Regions from separate parts of the Homo sapiens genome. Here regions 1, 2, 3 and 5 are each linked to region 4. The links come from fine-mapping of genetic effects on gene expression. A gene starts in region 4. Each other region holds a variant in brackets. All regions are shown on one strand. Distances are between the middles of the regions. Region 1 overlaps FDX1 (ferredoxin 1). Region 2 overlaps LINC02732 (long intergenic non-protein coding RNA 2732). Region 3 overlaps LINC02732 (long intergenic non-protein coding RNA 2732). Region 4 holds the start of FDX1 (ferredoxin 1). Region 5 overlaps LINC02732 (long intergenic non-protein coding RNA 2732).

The links. PIP is the estimated chance that this variant, and not a neighbour inherited with it, causes the effect.
Region 1: its variant is the best candidate, but not a certain one, in a credible set for the expression of FDX1 in aorta (GTEx, PIP 0.60).
Region 2: its variant is the best candidate, but not a certain one, in a credible set for the expression of FDX1 in lung (TOPMed, PIP 0.80).
Region 3: its variant is the best candidate, but not a certain one, in a credible set for the expression of FDX1 in monocytes after interferon gamma (Fairfax 2014, PIP 0.82).
Region 5: its variant is the best candidate, but not a certain one, in a credible set for the expression of FDX1 in whole blood (TOPMed, PIP 0.56).

What each region holds. Positions count from the first base shown.
Region 1 is chr11:110,456,871-110,461,092 of GRCh38, reverse strand. FDX1 (ferredoxin 1) reads right to left here. Exons shown (of 4, transcript NM_004109.5): 3 at 4,046-4,175. Among named protein-coding and RNA genes, the nearest start is that of FDX1, 29 kb to the right of the region's middle. The variant T/C (reference allele first, on the strand shown) is at 1,876.
Region 2 is chr11:110,400,778-110,404,999 of GRCh38, reverse strand. The region is part of intron 3 of LINC02732 (long intergenic non-protein coding RNA 2732); the gene reads right to left. Among named protein-coding and RNA genes, the nearest start is that of FDX1, 27 kb to the left of the region's middle. The variant C/T (reference allele first, on the strand shown) is at 2,058.
Region 3 is chr11:110,393,437-110,397,658 of GRCh38, reverse strand. All of the region lies in intron 3 of LINC02732 (long intergenic non-protein coding RNA 2732), which reads right to left. Among named protein-coding and RNA genes, the nearest start is that of FDX1, 34 kb to the left of the region's middle. The variant AT/T (reference allele first, on the strand shown) is at 1,825.
Region 4 is chr11:110,427,791-110,432,012 of GRCh38, reverse strand. FDX1 (ferredoxin 1) reads right to left here and starts at 2,065. Exons shown (of 4, transcript NM_004109.5): 1 at 1,708-2,065. The coding sequence starts at 1,892. RefSeq lists an enhancer at 1,252-1,531 and a silencer at 1,602-2,251.
Region 5 is chr11:110,388,169-110,392,390 of GRCh38, reverse strand. The region is part of intron 3 of LINC02732 (long intergenic non-protein coding RNA 2732); the gene reads right to left. Among named protein-coding and RNA genes, the nearest start is that of LINC02732, 35 kb to the right of the region's middle. The variant C/T (reference allele first, on the strand shown) is at 1,745.

The sequences.
Region 1 (4,222 bases), 29 kb before region 4:
CTTTTATCTTCCTTAGTGGCATATAAAAAGAAATGTTAATCTTACAATTGACATGTCTTCAATTTGATGAAATCTGATATTCAGGTCTTGGTTTTATTAATGTACTCATGAAGCATTTATTGAGCACCTAAAGGCACAACACTAAATGTCAATGAGGAAGAGCAAATCAACTCCACACTTTCTTACTGAACACTTCTTATTTTCTGGGCATTGGGATGCACTAAAGAGACAGCATCAGAGTTACAGCCAAAGAGACCAGCAGTGCAGAATCCAGCACTTAATATACCATGTTCACAGGCAACTTGCTTAACCTCACCAAATGGTAGTTTCCTAACCTAATCTTCAAGATGAGCAGGAGAATTCCTCACAGGACTGCTGTGAGGATTGGTTGCTAATGCCAGCATTAATGAGTAAACTTTCAATCAAAGGGATGAGATGAGACACATTCAGATAGTTAACATGTGAGACTGTGGCAAATGCCACCGAGGGAGAAAGCCAAATGGCTCTGAGAGGTCTAAGAAGAAAGCCCTTACTTCTGGCCACAGAAGGTGTTGTCCACAATGGGCTTTGGAGGATAGGTAGGATTTACTATTTAGTACAAGATAAAGGAGAAAAGTATGTGAGGCAAAGGCAACACAATGCAAAGAAGCTCAAGTCACATTTAAAGCAAGATGGGTGTTTTAGCTTGGTTGCTGCACAGCGTAAACAAGGACAAGGGGAATGATGGGCCAGAAAAGCGGCCAGAGCCACAGGCAGCTGTGAATATCAGTTAAGGGGCCTGTGTTTCACTGGTGAGCAAGGAGGAACCACCAGGAAGTTTTGGAGTAAAGGAGTGTGCTTAACCATGAGAAATACTGATTACTAATAGAAAAAAAATCCCCTCTATCAAGAGTTCTTTATTTGTAGAATTGGAAACAGCCTTCACAATACTCAATTATGCATTAAGCTCTGTCTGCAAGAGAGAAAAAGTGGCAAGCCAATTTGGACAAATTCGTTAAGACAGCAGTGAGCTCTAGAGAGTCTGTTGGTTACTCTTGGTATTCATACACAGATAGCAAGATGATGCTGGTCTTCAAGGAACGGTTACTTTAGTAAGGGAAACAGAGATGGAAACAGTTATCAGTGAAACATGGCAGGGTACCACAAGTGTGGTGATAGAAGAACAATAAATCTGTTATGGGAACACAGAAAGAGACGGAACAAAAAGCTCCTGCTCAGTCTAGAGAATAAGGCAGTGGCGCTCTGTGGCTAGTTTCTCACTCTCCTACTTCTTCTACCTCCTTAAAGATCTCTGGCTCCAAGATCCACCAGTATAGATGGTGTCTCATACTTCTAGAGAAGGAGACAAACAACAAGGCTCCCCTGATTTCACACTTTGAGTCCCACAACATTTTGACACTTCTGCAAACCTGGAAGGTATTTTCTCCAGTTACTCTTGCCACATATCCCTGATGGTGAAAATATACTGGGTATTAGGTTTACTTTAGTTCTAGGGTTTGGTTTTCAACTCAGAGAAGCAGCTTGAAATAGTAAAAGACTAAAGGCTTTGGGGCCCAACACAGCTGGATTTAAATCAGGGGTGTTACCCACTAGCTGTGCAGCCTTAAGCAAATCCGTGATAACTAAACCTTGTTTCCCCACCTACAACATGGTGATAGTACTGCCTAACCCTGAAGGTTAGAAATAATACTTAAGTGCCTAGGCATTACAGTAAGTTCCCAATAGATAAGTCGATATGATGGTAGTTACAATGCTAACAACTACCATTTAATGAATGCTTTCTCCACCAAGCACTGTTCTGAGAGCTTCACATATATTTCCTCATTAACTCCACACAGCAATACTGTGAGGTAGGTACTATTATTATCCTCACCT[T/C]ACATATAAGGAATCTGAGGCCTCTGTGTAGATTACCCATGCAAACTGGTGGCAGGGAGCAATTACAATCATCCAATGTAAACTCACAGGTAATTCCTGAATCTCCCTTTCCATCAACTATTAATTCCGCAAGCAGTTGGTGACCTCTACTGTGAATCTGGCATTAGAGATACAATGGTAAAATAAGACATGGCTGCTCCTTTAATGGGAAAAGGGAGATAGGTAACCAGTATGAAAAAAACAATGAGGCTGTCCATGTATCATCCATCCATCCATCAACAATCAAGGTTAAGGACAACCAATAAAACATTGAAGCCAGGCACGGTGGCTCACGCCTGTAATCCCAGCACTTTGGGAGGCCAAGGTGGGCAGATCATGAGGTCAGGAGTTCGAGACAGCCTGGCCAACATGGTGAAACCCCGTCTCTACTCAAAATACAAAAATTAGCGGGGCATGGTGGCAGGCACCTGTAATCCCAGCTACTCGGGAGGCTGAGGCAGGATAATTGCTTGAACCCGGGAGGCAGAGGTTGCAGTGAGCCAAGATCATGTCACTGCACTCCAGCAAGGGTGACAAAGCAAGACTCTGCCTCAAAAAAAAAAAGAAACGATGGTGTTTTTGCTTAAAAATTAAAAACATTTACATAGTATTTAAAGTAAGTATATGAACTAAAAGGCTGAATTTCCTTATTTCTTTTTCTGAAACTTTCTGATACCCTAAAAATAAGTTTACATGTGGTTACTAGCTTTGAGCAAAATTCTTTCCATTCCAAATATGTCAATGTGTTTTGTAAATGCTACCTGTGAAACCCATTATACTCTTTCCCACAAAGTATTTCTACTAAAATGCTGTGTACTTAAGAATACCAGCTATAAAACACCATAAAAGCTATTCCTTGCTCTCTATTGTGTAGCTGTAAAACTTGGAAATTTTATCATCAATACTCTTGCTAGCTTACATTTATTATAGACCTTTTGTATCTAACTGTAGCTCTCCCTTTTCCCTTTCTTTTCAATTAGAATATTATCTATTACAGGCATCTACAAATTGTAACTGTATAAAAGAGCAAGCAGTTAGCTATGATTTAACTCTCTTATTAAGAGACACAATTCTCAGAACCAAACTAATACAGTCATTGGATTTAGTTTCTGTGTTAAGGGGAAGAAAGGAGGTGCTCATAGAGAACACGGCACTGAAGATGTGAGAGGACAGGCAGACAGTAGCCACAATCCACTCTGCTTTGGTGTCCAAAGAGATACTATTTCACCAGTTTCTCTTCCCAGGGTTATCAGTCTCACATCCACCAAGAGGGAAATGAACTATAAAAGGAACAAAATGATTCTTCTTCTCTAAATAAATACAAATGACCTGAAAATGTTTGTGAGGATTAAATGAGGTAGTTTATATTAAAAGTGTATAACAAAATTGTAGCTATATAATACACATGAAATAAAACTATTATTACTATCTTTAATTTTTAAAAAATTATTTGTCATTAAGGTCACCAAACTAGAGTTAAACAAAGCCAACCTTAATTAAGTAATATGCCCTCATTATCTTACCCCTTGAAATAGTATATCAGCTAGCTACCTTCATTGACTCCAATCAAAAGACTAGATAATTTTTTTAAAAAATAAGATATCACTTGATGTCACTTGCTACTGTAAATCTCACCACTTTTAAGAGTAACTATTAATTAATAACAAGAATAAGCTCTGATTACTTTAAGGTACACTTAGAAAAAGAGCTATTCATTTTAACATAATTACTATTATATATTAAGTTTCTTTAAAAATTCTGTTCTAATAGGTGAAACTTTCCATTATAATTGTGTTCAATTATCAAATATAAAAGCATTAGATTTAACCCCTCCATTCAGTTGTGATACATATTAGTTCCTGGAGTAAAAAGAGACTAAAGAAGAGGTGTTAGGATCTAGAACTTATACTTCCAATTAATTTTTTTTACTTTTGTAAAATTTCATAAGGTCTAAACTGTAGAACAGTGAAAACAAAGAGAAATGCCACATATCTGATACTCAAAATCTGTGACTGTTATTTAACCTGGTAGAACACTATTACATTTATGGGTCTGGTCTTACATAGACAACATAATACAACATCTATGTTCCCAGATTATTATTACAATTGAAGCAGTCCAAAAATCTTACCTGTCTGTTAGTCCATATGCCAGATCGAGCATGTCATTCTCCTCATCAGTGATTGCATCTAACTTCTCATATATGTGATCTTCAAAGATGAGGTGACAGGTTGAACAAGCCAGGGTTCCCTCACATGCACCTGACAAAAGCAACAAACACTGAACATAGTCCCTTCTACATCAGACG
Region 2 (4,222 bases), 27 kb after region 4:
AAAAGTTGGATTGCATGTCCTGTTAGTATATTCTTGGTCCTATCAGAGATGGGGAAGTTGGCTAATGATTGCATATTTAGAAGTTGGAAAGGGTCTTTTCCTTCATAACAAGGGTGGTAGGTTAAGTTGGTAAAGACCCATTTTTTTGCGGGAATGGGAGGTTCCACCTGGCAGCAATTTTGGCCTCAGCATCTGCCTGACGGTTTCCTTCTGCCTTTTGTCCTTCACTTTTCTGATGGCTTTGGCAGTGTAAGACTGCCACTTCCTTGGGTTTTTGCACTGCATTCAATAACTCCATAATTTCCTTGTGGTATTTAATGAGGGTTCCCCCAGAGGTTAGGAACTCCCTTTCTTTCCATATTGCAGCATGGGCATGTAGGATTAGATAAGCATACTTGCTAACTGTACACACATTTATTCTTCTTCCTTTTCCCAGTTCTAAGGCTCAGGTAAGTGCCACTAGTTCTGCTAACTGGGAGCTGGTCCCTGGGGGAAGAGGCTTACTTTCAAGTACCGTTACTAACTATGGCATAACCTGCCCTTCATATCCCATTCTTCACAAATGAACTTCCATTGGTATATAGGTTAAGGTCAGAACTAACTAAGGGGACTTCTAAGAGATCATCTCGGGTGGCATAAGTCTGGACTATAATTTGTTGGTGGTCATGCTCAATTGGTTCCCTATCCTCTGGGAGAAAAGTGGCAGGGTTGAGGGCCACACACGTACGTATTTGAAGCACCGGTCCCTCAAGGAGTAGCACTTGGTATCTAAGTAGGCAGTTGTCTGATAGCCATAAACTTCCTTTGGCACCTAGTATGCCATTTACATCATGAATGGTCCAGACAGTGAGATCCTTTCCTTGTATTATTTTTATAGCCTCTGACACTGAGATGGCCACTGCCACAACTACACATAAACAGTGAGGCCAGCCTTTTGCTACTACATCAATTTCCTTACTTAGGTATGCCACTGGTTGTGGGGATGTCCCATGAGTCTGAGTAAAGACTGCAAGAGCTATCCCAGCTCCTCTGTTACGTATAAAGAGAAGTTTTGTCCTGTGGAAGGCTTAAAGCTGGAGCTTGTACTAGTGCCTGCTTTAAGGTTTTGAAGGCTGTTCCTGCCCCTGGTTCCCATTCTACTAGATGAGTATTTGCCCTCTGGGTCTCCTTGATTAGAGTATAGAGGGGCCTGGATATCTCACTGTATCCAGGGATGCATAGTCAGCAAAATCGGTGATTCCAAGGAACCCCCGCAACTGTTTTAATGTCTTAGGGCAAGGATAAGCCAGTATAGGCTGTATTCATTCCTTGCTGAGGGCCCTGGTTCCTCTGGCTAAGATTAGGCCTAGATATTTGACCTGCTGTAGGCAAAGCTGGGCCTTCGACCTAGATGCCTCGTACCCTTGATTTGCTAGAAAGCTCAAGAAATCTAGAGTAGCCTGCTGGCATGAGGCTTCTGAACTGGTAGCCAAAAGTAAATCATCCACATACTGAAGGACCAGAGTGCCTGGACTTGAGAAGTGGCCTAGATCTTGAGCCAGTGCCTGACCAAAGAGATGAGGGCTATCCCTAAACCCTTGGGGCAAGATGGTCCACGTAAGTTGGGATGTGTGGTCTGTGAGATCCTCAAAGGCAAAGAGAAACTGGGAGTCAGAGTGCAGGGGAATACAGAAGAAGGCATCCTTGAGGTCCAGAGCAGTGAACCATTTTGCTTCCTCTGGTATTTGAGAGAGCAGGGTATAGGGGTTGGGTACAACTGGATATAGAGGAATTACTGCCTCACTGATGAGTCTAAAATCTTGCACTAGTCTCCACTGATCATTTGGTTTTTGTACTCATAGAATTGGGGTGTTGCAGGGACTGCTGTATTTCCTTACTAAGCCTTGAGCTTTTAAATGTTTAACAATATCCTGTAATCCTTTATGAACTTCAGGCCTTAAGGGATATTGTCTTTGATAAGGAAAAGTGGTGGGATCTTTTAGCCTGATTTGGACTGGGTGGGCATTTTTTTGCCCTTCCACATTGTCCTTCCAATGCCCAGACTTCAGGGTTGAGAC[C/T]CTCCTCAAGTAGGGGACAACGAATGGGTAACTTGTTCCCCATATTCATGTAGATAATAGCTCCAGCTTTGGCTAACATATCCCTCCCTAATAAGGGTGTGGAACTTTCAGGCATAACAAGAAAGGCATGTGAAAAGAGCAAAGTCTCCCAATTACAACAGAGGAGGTGGGAGAAATACCTGGTTACAGGCTGTCCCAGGATTCCTCAGATGGTAATGGACCTTGAGGACAGTCATCCAGGATAGGAGATTAACACTGAGAAGGCCACACCAGTGTCCAGGAGGAAGTCAATTTCCTGGTCCTCAATGGTTAAACATAGCCGGGGCTCAGTGAGGGTGATGACAAGAGCTGGTGCTTACCCTGGGCACCATAAGTTCTGTTGTTGGATCATCTGGTTGGGAGCTTCTGGCCCAGAGAACCATCGTACTCTGGGGCAGTGTGCCTTCCAGTGATTGCCTCGGCAGAGTGGACATGGATGCGGAGGTGGCTTGTTTCTCATTGGACAATCTTTTTTAAAGTGTCCTTGTAAACCACACTGATAACAAGCCCTACCAGGTGATTGGCCTGCTCCATTTTCTGTCCTCTCTGAACCACCAAGGTTTGTTTGTCTGAGGGTCATGACTAAGGCTGTGGCCTTTCTCTGATCTCACTTTTCCTTTTGGGCCTGTTCTTCTTGGCCCCTATTATAGAACACTGAAGTTGCCAGGTTTAATAATGCCTCCAGATTTTGTTCAGGGCCCAGGGCTCGCTTTTGGAGCTTTCTTCTGATTTCTGCAGCTGATTGGGTAATAAGCTTATCTTTTAGAATCAATTGACCCTCTAGTGAGTCAGGTGACAGGGAAGTATATTTTCTTAAGGCCTCCCGTAGCCAATCGAGGAAGGCAGAAGGATTTTCTTCCTTTCCCTGAGTCATGGTGGACATCATTGAATAATTCATGGGCTTTTTCCTAATTATCCTTAGTCCTTCTAGAACACAGGTCAACAGATGTTTATGACTCCAGTCCCCATGATCTGAGTCAAGGTCCCAGTGGGGATCCATACTGGGGATGGCTTGCTGACCAGTAGGGAATTTGTCCCTTTCTTTGGCTGTCAGTCTATCATTTACTTGACTAAGATACCAGGTATCTCCAAACTCTTGGGCTGCAGCTAAAGCCACATTCTTTTCAGTAAAGGCCAGGGTTTGATCTAACAATAGCATGACATCTCTCCAATGAGATCGAAGGTTTGCCCTAGACCCTGTAGGACATCTATGTGCATATCATGATCATCTGAAAACTTCCCCAGGTCTGCCTTGATCTGCTTTAAATCAGAGAGGGAGAAGGGGACGTGTACCTGGGTTGGGCCAAATTCCCCTCCCCCTACAGCTTGAAGGGGACATAACCAATAGCCCGGGGGTTTTTGTGATCTTCTGGAGATTTCTTTGCTTATTTCCTTCTGAGCAGGGGAGATTAGAGGAGGCTTATCATTAATAGGAAAGGGAGCTATAGGGAGGCTAGGATATGGGGTAAGCCGAGAGGTCCTCCTGTGGGATGTAAATTGCAAGCTTTGCCTAGTTGTGTATTCTCCTTCAATGAAAAGAAAGCTTGGACATAAGGTATTTCACTCCATTTGCCTTCCCTCTTACAGAAAAGGTCAAGCTGCATGATAGTATTGTAATTTATACTTCCCTCAGGTGACCATTTTTCCCCATCAGAGAGAGAATATTGGGGCCAGGCTGTAGTGCAGGAAAAAAAATGAGCCACCTCTTTTTCAGGGTTTGCAGATCAAATTGGTCCCAATGGCTTAGGATGCATTTCAAGGGTGAGCCTGTTGATGTCTGAGTGTTTCCCATCTGAAAGACAAAACCACCCACCGTTTTGGTTTGTTTGTTTCTCCCCCTGCCCAAGAACCTGTGATGGTCCCTGGACCCTGCTGATCGGAATAGTTGCACTCACCAACACAGCAACAGAAACACTAGTTTTCCTCCTACACCACAAGGAGGACTGAGGAAGGTCAGAGTTAGTGGCCCTTACTGATGCATTCTCAAAAAGCTGGACCCTTGCCTGTCCTCCTAGACCCCAAAGAGGACCAAGAAAAATCGGATTTAGTGGCCCTTACTGACACATTCTCAAAAACCTGTTAGAGCCCTAAGCTTTCTCCTGTTAGTATTGGGAGTTTGCCCCTGT
Region 3 (4,222 bases), 34 kb after region 4:
ATGTTCTCCACCTATAGTGATTTTTTCCCAAGCTCTAATGCACACTCCTCTAAGCTGTTCTATGGCATCATCCTGCATGACCAGTTGCGCATCTAAACCAGCCCAGCCGCCAACCCCCAAAAGTTGGTCTACAGTTACATTAATTTGATGTTGGGCCTGGGCATTGCAAGCAGCCTGAATGGAAGCTTCATCTGCCCACCAAGTTTTAAATTGTAAGAACTGACCAGGAGTTAGACAAGCTTGAGTAACAGCATCCCAGTCAGTAGGAATCATCCAACTGGAAACAGCAACATTCTTTAACGGTCCCATTACAAAAGGAGAACCTGGTCCATACTGATTTATAGCTTGTTTAAATTCTTTGAGTAATTTAAAAGGAAAATGCTCAAATGTAGCTATAATACTTCCCCGTTGATCTGGGAGTTGTAGTCTAACAGGGAACTGCCAAGCCTCTAAATCACCCTCTCATCTAGCTTGCTGAATTCCTGCCTGAATAGAACTAAGAGCGGTCACTCAAGGTGCTGCTTGAACAGTCACTGGGACAACTACTTTTTGCCCGGTGTCCTCTGGAAAAGAAAGATCTGGAGGGTCTTTTTCTTCAAAATAATAATGAGGGGGTGCAGAAGGGTAGGGATGAATCTCTCCTTCCTTTGCCACTTTAGCTTTATATGGTTAATAAACATGCTCTGTAACCTCTTCTGTTACTTCACTATACTCTTGTTCCTCCTCATTATCAGTGTGAAAAGTTCCAAGGGGAAATGAACCAGACCCCACACCTGTTCCATTGTTACCCTGATGCTTCCGAGCTCCCCTTCTTACCATGGGGATTGCTTTAAGAGTACTCGGGTGTCCTCCAGCTAGTTTTCCCTTCCAACCATTGCTCCGGTGACCCTTCGACCTGGATTTGAGCCCCCACAAATGGACGCCACTTGCTGAGACCAGCTCGGTCAGGGAGACCCTAACCCAGAGGCACTAGAGGAATTAAAGACACACACACAGAAATATAGAGGTGTGAAGTGGGAAATCAGGGGTCTCACAGCCTTCAGAGCTGAGAGCCCCAAACAGAGATTTACCCACATATTTATTAACAGCAAACCAGTCATTAGCATTGTTTCTATAGATACTAAATTAACTAAAAGTATCCCTTATGGAAAACGAAGGGATGGGCCAAATTAAAGAAATAGGTTGGGCTAGTTAACTGCAGTAGGAGCATGTCCTTAAGGCACAGATTGCTCATGCTATTGTTTGTGACTTAAGAATGCCTTTAAGTGGTTTTCCGCCCTGAGTGGGCCAGGTGTTGCTTACCCTCATTCCCGTAAACCCAGAACCTCCCAGCTTGGGCGTTAGGGCCATTATGAACATGTTACAGTGCTGCAGAGATTTTGTTTATGGCCATTTTTGGGGCCAGTTTATGGCCAGATCTTGGGGGGCCTGCTCCCAACATGTGTGATGTGTCATATGAACAGAATGAAAAAAAAAATCTCATGATCATTTCAATTGATGCAGAAAACCATTTGATAAAATTCAACATCCCAGCCAGGTGCAGTGGCTGATACCTGTAATCCCAGTACTTTGGGAGGCCAAGGTGGGCAGATCACGAGGTCAGGAGTTCGAGACCAGCCTGGTCAACATGGTGAAACTCTGTCTCTACTAAAAATACAAAAATTAGCTGGGTGTGGTGGCAGGCACCTGTAATCCCAGCTACTCAGGAGGCTGAGGCAGGAGAATTGCTTGAACCTAGGAGGTGGAGGTTGCAGTGAGCCGAGATCACGACACTGCACTCCAGCCTGGGTGACAGACTGAGACTCCATCTTGGAAAAAAAAAAA[AT/T]CAACATCCCTTTGTCATAAAAACCCTCAAAAAACTGGGTATAGAAGGAACATACCTCAACATAACAAAAGCCATATACCACAGACACACAGCTAGTATCATACTAAATGAGGAAAAACTGAAAGCCTTTCCCCTAAGATCTGGAACATGACAAGGATGGCCACTTTCACCACTGTTATTCAACATAGTACTGGAAGTCCTAGCTAAAGCAATCAGACAAGAGAAAGAAATAAAGGGCATTCAAATTGGAATGGAAGAAGTCAAATTATCCTTGTTTGCAGATGATATGATCTTATAGTTGGAAAAACCTAAAGATTCTACAAGAAAACTATTAGAACTGATAAATTCAGTAAAGCTGCAGGATACAAAAACAACATAGAAAAATCAGTAGCATTTCTATATGCCAACAGTGAGCAATCTGAAAAAGAAATTAAAAAGTAATCCCATTTATAACAGCTACAAATAAAATTAAATGCCTAGGAATTAACTTAATGAAAGGAGTGAAAAATCTCTGTAATGAGAACTATAAAACACTGATGAAAGAAATTGAAGAGGACAACAAAAAATGAAAAAGTAGTTCATGTTCATGGATTGGAAGAATCAATATGGTTAAAATGTCCATACCACCCAAAGCAATCTACAGATTCAGTGCAATCCCTATCAAAATACCACTTACATTCTTCACAGAAATAGATAAAAACTATTTTAAAATTTGTATGGAACCACAAAAGACCCAGAATAGCCAAACCTATCCTAAGCAAAAATAACAAAACTGGATGAATCACATTATCTGACTTCAAATTATACTACAGAACTATGGTAACCAAAACAGCATGACACTGGCATAAAGACAGACACATAGACCAATGGAACAATAGAAAACCCAGAAACAAATCCACACACTTACAGTGAGCTCATTTTTGATAAAGGTCTAAGAACATACACTGGGAAAAAGAATCTCTTCAATAAATGGTGCTGGGAATACTGGATATCCATATGCAGAAGAATAAAACTAGATCCCTATCTCTCACCATATAAAAAATTAAATCAGGCTGAGTGCAGTGGCTCATGCCTGTAATCCCAGCACTTTGGGAGGCTGAGGTGAGCAGATTACCTGAGGTCAGGAGTTTGAGACCAACCTGTCCAACATGGTGAAACCCCATCTCTACTAAAAATATTTTATAAAATTAGCTGGGCACCTGTAATCTCAGCTACTCAGGAGGCTGAGGCAGGAGAATCGCTTGAACCCGGGAGGTGGAGATTGAGATCACATCACTGCACTCCAGCCTGGGCGATGGAGTGAGACTCTGTCTCAACAAAAAAAAAAAAGAAAAAAAAAACAACTCAAAATTGATTAAAGACTTAAGTCCAAGACCCCAAACCATGAAACTACTAGAGGAAAACATTAGGGAAAATCTCCAGGACATTAGTCTGGGCAAAAATTTTTTGAACAATACCCCCACAAGCACAGGCAACCAAAGCAAAAATGGACAACTGGGATCACTTCGAGGTTAAAAACTTCTTTACAGAAAAGGAAACAATCAACAAAGTAAAGAGGCAACCCACAGAATGGGAGAGAATATTTGCAACATATTCATCTCACAAAGAATTAACAACAAGAATATATAAGGAGCTCGAACAACTCTGTAGGAAAAAAAATCTAATCATCCAATCAAAAAATGAGCAAAAGACTTGAATAGACACCTCTCTAAAGAAGACATACAAATGATAAACAGACATATGAAAAGGTGCTCAACATCATTGATCATCAGATAAATGCAAATCAAAACTACAATCAGATATCTATCATCTCGCCCCAGTTAAAATGGCTTATATCCAAAAAACAGATAACAACAAAGGCTGGCAAGGATGTGGAGAAAAGGGAACCCTCATACACTGTTGATGGGAATGTAAATTAGTACAACCTATATGGAGAATAGTTTGGAAGTTCCTCAAGAAAACGAAAAATAGAGCTACCATATGATCCAGCAGTCGCATTGTTGGGTATACAGTCACAAAAAAAGGAAACCAGTATATTAAAGAGATATTTGAACTCCTATGTTTGTTGCAGCACTGTTCATAATAGCTAAGATTTGTTTTCTTCTTTTTTTTTTCCTTTTTGAGACAGAGTCTCGCTCTGTCACCCAAGTTGGAGTGCATTGGCACAATCTCAGCTCACTGCAATCTCCACCTCCCGGGTTCAAGAGATTCTGCTGCCTCAGCCTCCCTAGTAGCTGGAATTACAGGTGTGCATCACCATGCCAGGATAATTTTTGTATTTTTAGTAAAGACGGGGCTTCACCATGTTGTCCAGGCTAGTCTCGAACTCCTGACCTCGAGTGATCTGCCCACCTCAGCCTCCCAAAGTGCTGGGATGATGGCGTGAGCCACCGTGCC
Region 4 (4,222 bases):
CTAGTGTAACTACGAGATTGAATCTTTAATTTTATTTACCTTTAATTATGTTAAACTTCAATAGCCACATGTGATTAGTAGTTACGGTAGTTACAGCACAAGTCTCATTAACACAGTAAGAACTGGAAAATCCAGTTGTAGCTCCAAAGTCTGTAAGAGGAATGATAAGACCATGAATAGAAATTGTGCCAATAAAGAGGGCAGCAGGATTATGAGGAAATAGACGTGCTCCCCTTTAAAACAACCTGACATATCCAAATCCAAAAAACAAATCTGAGAAAGATAACTCCCAATTACTACAAAAACATTCATGTTCCCTTATACCAGTTACACAAGCATGTTCAATATCTGTCCCAATTGATTCAGTTGTCCAAAACTCATCCATTGTATAACAGAAAGCAAGGTACCCACACTGGTCAAAGACAGGGGGGGAAGTGCAGAGGAAACAGGAACAAATAAATCTGGCTTGCCTTCTCCCTGATTTCCCCCAAAGTTCACACAACAAAAATGTATGGAGCACCCACTAGATAACGGGATTAGTGGGGAAAAGATGACTGAAAGTCTTAGACCCTGCTCTCAGAGACCTCAAAAAGAAACTAGACAAAGCAGCGTACAAATCCAACACACTCTCCCTCTAGTTCTCGATTCCTGCTACCCTACATCATGCGGTCAAAGAGCTGTCGAGAGATCTGCATTATATAAATCGCCACCATGTTGGTAAAAATTATGTGTAAATTGTATCTCTAGTATATCTAAGGAGTGTCTTTGAAAAACAAATATGCCCAAGAACCTAAAACTTCAACACATTTGGGATAAATTGTCACATTTCTTTCAATATTTAATACAAAACTCTCTTAACATTGTGAACCTAAGAAGCTGCTGCTGCTGCTGCTGCTGCTGCTGCTGCTGCTACCAAGTGGCATCTACTGAGCCCTCATTACGTGCTAGGCACAAGACTACCTGTATCGCTGTATTAACTCATTGATTCTTCAATTAACCATAGGAGGTCTACACTGTTATTATATCCAACTTGCAAATGGAGAAACTGGGTTCCTAAGGACTGACCAAGTTAGGCACGTCAGACAATCAGTGCCAAAGCCAAGTTTCAAGTCCCGGCAGATTACTTCAACGCAGGGGCTTTCAACACTTGAGCAACTAGCAAAGGGCCTACAGGGCAGCAGAGGGTATGGGCTGGGTGTATTCTACCTGGACACCCCCTGACAAAGACCTGGGACCTGGGTGTCCTCTCAAAGCAGGGCAAGGCCCTGAAAAAAACAGCTGGCAGGTGTGTCAGGCCAGGACAGCAGGAGGGAAGCCTGTCGCGAAGGTCACTGCCAGTTTCGGGCAGAGCAAAGGTCAGATCCCAGACAAATCACACGGAGAACAAGCAGCAGCAAAGTCCCGGCTTTCCTCAGGGCACGGGAAGCGCTGGGAAAGGGAGCTGGGCGTCCAGGGTCCCCGATTCCCGCCGGGAGTGGGTGATGCGGAAAGGAACTCTGCGGTGCGACGGAAGGGAGGCAGCGACGCCACCGAGCAGCGAGACGGAGCCGCGAGAGCACCCCAGAAGAGGGGGGCGAGAGGCAGGCCTCCGGGGTGTGGGCCCGGCGCGCAGAAGGCACTGGAACCAGAGACTCGGCCCAGAGAGCCAGGCGCCACCCACCGGGGACCCCGGCCCGCGCCGGCGATCGCGCCCGCACGGCGCCCTACCTGCTCCGGGCCCGCGCCGACACGCTCAGCGACCGGCTCGCCTCCGCGCTCCCGCCCGGCCCCCGGTTCCTCAGCAGGCCGCTGGATCCAGCGCGGGACCCAGCGTGGTGCAGCCACCGGCCGGCCGGGCCGCCGAGGACAGCAGAAGCGGCGCGCAGCAGCCGGGCGCCCCCAGCGGCAGCCATCGCCCGCGGTCGGGAACTGCCGGAAGCGACGCAGGCCGCGCTTTGAGGCCGCGAGAGACTCCAAAGAGGCGGGGGCGGCAGCTGCGGCGCAGACGCCCGAGGGCCGCGGCGAGGGGCGCGGGGCTGGAGTGGCGGAGAGACCCTGCTGGAAGCACCGCGCCGAGGTTCCGCGTGCCTTCCGGGTGACCTATAAAGACATTGGCAAGCAGAGCGCGGCCCCGCCCCGCCTCTCACGCCCACGCCGCCCGGTCCCATGGGGCGGGGCCAGCGCAGGGGGCCTTTACCAACCCTCCAGGTTCCGTTGTAAGCTGGATGCTTTTTTAGCGGCTGAAGTTGCCGTGCAGAAACAAAATATTTTGAAAGATAGCTGGACGTCTAGCGGAAATCGGTTAGCTAGACCACTGTGTTCTGTTCCGCATACCCCCATCCCCTAGCCGTTAAAAAAAAAACTGGGAAATTGTGTCATCTTGGAGTCAAGTTAGAGCAAAGTGAATTCTGCCCACTGTAAAACAAAAACAGTGGGAAATTTTGGAAAATCTCAGAATGCTATTATACAAAGAAATAATTATGACTATAAAATTGTAAATGAAATTAATGAATAGGCTTGGGGCTCCTGCAGAGGACAGGTAGCCATCCTAGACCTTGACTGGCAAGTAAATGCTGGCTGAGTACATGAAACCCACGAGACTGAACCGGAAACTTTGTGATGAGCTGAGATCTCTAAAAGACTTTCACAAAAAACAGAAAAGATGAACTTTAAAATACACCTTATCATGGTTCATATGTTGTGGGAAATGCATGGGCTTTAAGGTCAGAAATAGCAATGTTCAGATCCAAGATCTACTGCTTTAGAGATCTGAGACCTTGGAAAAATTATTCTCATGGAGGATCAGAGTTTCCATAACTCTCAAACACAGATAAGATGTTCCAGCCTTCAGGGCCATTCTGATGTTAATCTAATACGCAATGCACACCGTGCGTCACAAACCAGGAAGGCTACCGCTTCCTGGGCCTTCCTCCATCAGGGTACTCATAAAGAGGCTAAAGGCCAAAGTCAAGGGGATATTGCAGATATGCTAAACACAATCAGATACTTTTTTTTTCTTTTTTTGACATGGGGTCTCTCTATTCTGCCCAGGCTGTAGTGCAGTGGCGAAATCTCGGCTCACTGCAACCTCCGCCTCCCAGGTTCAAGTGATTCTCCTGCCTCAGCCTCCCGAGTAGCTAGGACTACAGGCGTGTGCCACCACACGCCACTAATTTTTGAAGATTCAGAACAAGAAAGTGTAAGCATGAGTAAAGTATCTGCGGACAATGTATGGTGCTTTCTGGAACCCAATGGCAGAGAGAAGGCAGTGGCTCCTAATTGCCTCAAATCGTTGGATGAAGAGAAAGTCTTTCAAGCTGCGAAGGGCACAGCAAACCCTGACAAGTAATCTTGAAGAGGAGGTTGTAAAAGAACAGCTAACTTTTGTTTTTAGTAAGACCAAACTTCCAAGGTCGGATGAATTAGTTGTAGGAAGAGAATTGAAAAGAAAAAAAATCGTAGATGTTCTGTCTTCTCTCAGCCCTCCTGTAGCAAATACAGTTTCAACTCCCTTAAGGCACTTGATAGCTTTCTGCTTTGTAGGGTAGTTATTCGTACACATAGAGTAGTTATTTATATAGTTCATCTTAGTGACTCCGACAGCACCAGCTACAGGGTCTTGAACATATCAAGGGTCTAATAAATATTGGTGAATAAATTGATGTTATGAAATTTCCATTAATAATCATCAGAATTCATTAAGCATGTATATGAAGATTAAAGATAGAAAAAATGTTCTCCAGGTTTTCTAAGGTGGATGAGAAGTAATGCCAAAAATTGCAAATATCAGTAGTCAGCAGAATTCCAGAATGGATTTGTAAACATGATCATGAATACAGATAAAGCAACATGGAATTACTGAGGACGTGCTTTTGCTTATCTGTTTGCTTATGTATTTCTTTGTCTATAAAACTCCCACCCCTCCATCCCTTTTTTTTTCTTTTTTTCCTTAGAGATGGGGTTTTGCCATGTTGCCCAGGCTAGTCTGGAACTCCTGAGCTCAAGCAATCTGCCCACCTCAGCCTTCCAAAGTGCCGGGACTACAGGCATGAGCCACCATGCCCAGCCCATCTTTTACTCCTTTCAAAATCCATTCATTGTTTGAAGACTTTTGTCTTATTCTGTTTATGATGCTATAACAGAATAACACACAGACTGGGTAATGTGTAAAGAACAGGAATTTATTTTCTCACAGTTCTGGATACTGGGTCGCCCAGGTGCCAACTGGTTTAATGTCTGATAG
Region 5 (4,222 bases), 40 kb after region 4:
CTTACATTGCAATTAAATTTCAACATTAGTTTTGGCAGAGACAAACCACATGGAAACCATAGCAGTAGTATAGTGTAATAATTAAGGCCCTGGGTTTTAGAGTCATGCTTTGAATCCCTGCTTCATCACGTACTTGCTGCATGTCATGGGGAGAATTACCTAACCTCTCAAGCTTTAGTTTCCTCATCTGTAGACTGGGGTTATAACGGTATTACAGTACCCACCTCACATGGTTGATGTGAAGGCTAAATGAGGTAATGCACATAAAAAACTTAGCCTGAGACCTGCATTATGTGCTTTCTGAAGGCTATTATTGTTATTGTTTTTATCTCACAGATGAAAAACTGAGGTTCAGGGGAATGGTTAAGTACCTTGCCCAAGGACAAACAGTTTGCCAATAGTGACTAAAGAACTCAATCTAATTTTTTTCACTTTAAAATCTCATGCTCTTTCCATGTCTATATAATTTATAGGTTTAATGTACCTTGTTTTCTTCTAACTCATTTTAGTAGTTTTCTACTTTGACTTGCAACTCAGTCAACATGAGCTTTGTTACAGAAAAGTAAAGATGATAGCCTGATGTGTTTGGGTGAAGTAAAAGAATAAAAAACTCTCATGTATGCAATCAGATTTATTTTTTGCTGTCATCACATAATCTAACAGATTATCATAAATATTAATTATCTTGTGCATTCTGACACTGTATTCTTTGACATCTAGTTAATTGCTGGTTAGAAAAGGTTTTCCTCATATAAAAAAATTTCATTCTGATATAAATTAAATGAATATATACCATTATAAATTTTGCAAACACAATTACATATAAATAATTTATATAACATTAATATTTAATTTATATTACATTTTTTTCTTTTCTTTTCTTTTGTGAGAGTAGTGTTGCTCTGTCGCCCAGGCTGGAGTGCACTGGCACCATCTCAGCCTCTAAAGTAGCTGGGACTACAGGCATGCACCCCCACCCCCAGCTAATTTTTGTATTTTTAGTAGAGACAGGGTTTCACCACGTTGGCCAGGCCAGTCTTGAACTCCTGACATCAAGGGATCCCACCTCAACCTCCCGAAGTGCTGGGATTACAGGTGTGAGCCACCACGCCTGGCCTGTATTTCTGGATTTGATCTGCCAGTATTTGACAGGGGATTTCTGTATCTGTGGTAAGAAGGGATTTTATTTACATCGTTTTCTCTTTTAATTTCTCTCTCAGGTTTGGTATCAGGCTTATACTAACCTCATAAAATGTTTTGGGAAGTGTTCACCCCTCTACTTTCTCAAAGAGTTAGTATAATATTAGTATTACGGATCTTTAAATGTTCAATAGACTTAACTAGCAAAATCACACGGTCCCGGAGTTTTCTTCATGGGAAAATTATTTGTAATAAAGTCAATGATGTGTGTATGTGTGTATTTTTCAGGGAACTGGTCAAACTTATCAAACCTTTTAAGCATTTGTAGGATTCTATAGTGATATCCTCTCTTTTATTCTTCATGTTGGTAATATGGCCCACAAATATAGAAATAGAATGTATAGAACTTAGTTTCTAATAGCATTTCCCAATTAAAAAAAAAAGGAGGGATCCTTGGAGAAATGGTTAATTCTACGACTAGAGCAGAAAATATACAAAATCAGCCTGGAGCATTTTGTAGCACCAGAATGTAAAGAACTGCTCAGAAACAGACATATGCAACAATTGGGGCATGTCAAAGGGACACAGGAACCAACTGGGACAG[C/T]TCCCAGTGGCCAAAGAAAACAATTTCAGCAACAAAAATTAAAATGGATTATAACCCAAAGTATAAAATAAGTATCCAATACTGATATAAATAAATGACTGAATAAATAAACAGTGAGAAATAGACAACTCTTTCCTGCAGAAAAATTCCAAATCATTTTATGTAGATACTCTGCCCTCAAAAAGTGAAGATTAAGTCCCCATTCTAAGTGAAAGTTGTGCATAAGAGTACAGAATGGAAAGGGGGAGAAAAGATTACTTTACACTGGAAAGACCTGACAAACACTACGTCATCCAACTGATCAAAGTCAACATCAACACAATAAGTCATGTTGACGGTGTGTAGCATTGATATGATGTTATGAGACTGTCACATCACCCCTGTGGTCTTCCTCCCAAAACCCGTAACCCAAGACTAACCATGAGAAAAACATCAAAGAAACCCCAGTTGAGCAACATTCTACAAAATACTTGACCAGGACTCTTCGAAATTGCCAAGGTCATCAAAACCAAGAAATTTCTGAGAAACTGTCACAGCCAAAAGGAACCTGAAGAGACATGATGACTAAATGTAATGTGGTATCCAGGATGAAATCCTGGGACAGCAAAAAGACATTAGGCCCTAAGGAAATGTAACTAGGGAAATCTGAATAAGGTATGAACTTTGGTTAACAACAAAAAAGAAATTTAAGAAAAGTGAAGGAAGGAAGAAAGGGAGGTTGAAAGGGAGTGAGAAAGCTGAACCAGGAAATAGAACCCACTTTTGCAATGGTCAGTTGACCTTCAACACAGCATCCAAAGTAATTTAATGAAGAAAGGACAGTGTCTTCTGCAAGTGGGGATGGAATAAAGGGATACCATTTTCAAAGGAAAAAATTAACCTTGATCCTTTCTTCAAATGATACATAATATTGACTCAAATGGATCACATATCTGAACAAAAAAGCTGAACAATAAACCGTTTATAACAAAGCACAGAAAAACATTTTCATGACTGTGAAGTAGACAAAGATTTTCTAGAAAGAACACAAAAACATAAATCATAAAAGAAAAAAATTGCCTCAAAAAAAAGAAAAAAGAAAAGAAAAGAAAAAAATCGGCTGGGGCTAGGTGCTGTGTGGCTCACGCTTGTAATTCCAGCACTGTGGGAGGCTGAGGCAGGTGGATCACCTGAGGTCAGGAGTTCAAGACCAGCCTGACCAACATGATGAAACCCGGTCTCTACTAAAATACAAAAATTAGCCAAGTGTGGTGATGTGCACCTCGGGAGGTTCCCATCTACTCAGGAGGCTGAGGCATGAGAATCACTTGAACCCAAGAGGTGGAGGTTGCAGTGAGCCAAGTTCATAACACTGCACCCCAGCCTGGGTGACAAAAGCAAAACTCTGTCTCAAACAAAAAAAAAAATTGGCTGGGCTTAGTGGTTCATGCCTGTAATCCCAGAACTTTGGGAGGCCGAGGCAGGCAGATAGATCACTTGAGGTCAGGAGTTTGAGACCAGCCTGGCTAATATGACGAAATCCCAACTCTACTAAAAATACAAAAATTAGCTGGGCATGGTGGCACACACCTGTAATCCCAGGTACTCGAGAGGCTGAGGCAGGAGAATCGCTTGAACCCTGGAGGCGGAGGTTGCAGTGAGCCGAGATCATGTCACTGCACTTCAACCTGGGTGACAGAGTGAGAATCTGTCTCAAAAACATAAAAGAAAAGAAAAAAATTGGTACCTGAAATAGGGGGGCAGTTCAAAGATGGCTGAATAGGAACAGCTCCAGTCTATAGCTCCCAGCATGAGCGACGCAGAAGGCGGGTGATTTCTGCACTTCCAACTGAGGTACCAGGTTCATCTCACTGGGGATTGTTGGACAGTGGGTGCAGGACAGTGGGTGCAGTGCACTGACCATGAGCCGAAGCAGGGCGAGGCATCGCCTCACCTGGGAAGTGCAAGGGGTGAGGGAATTCTCTTTCATAGCCAAGGGAAGGGGTGACAAATGGCACCTGGAAAATTGGGTCACTCCCACCCTAATACTGCACTTTTCCAATGGTCTTAGCAAACAGCACACCAGGATATTATATCCTGCGCATGGCTCGGAGGGTCCTACGCCCACAGAGCCTCGCTCATTGCCAGCACACCAGTCTGAGATCAAACTGCAACACCACAGCGAGACTGGGGGAGGGGAGCTCACCATTGCTGAGGCTTGAGTAGGTAAACAAAGCGGCCAGGAAGCTCGAACTGGGTGGAGCCCACCGCAGCTCAAGGAGGCCTGCCTGCCTCTGTAGACTCCACCTATGGGGGCAGGGCATAGCAGAACAAAAGGCAGTAGAAACCTCTGCAGACTTAAAAGTCCCTGTCGGACAGCTTGGAAGAGAGTAGTGGTTCTCCCAGCACAGAGCCTGAGATCTGAGAATGGACAGACTGCCTCCTCAAGTTGGTCCCTGACCCCTGAGTAGCCTAACTGGGAGGCACCTCCCAGTAGGG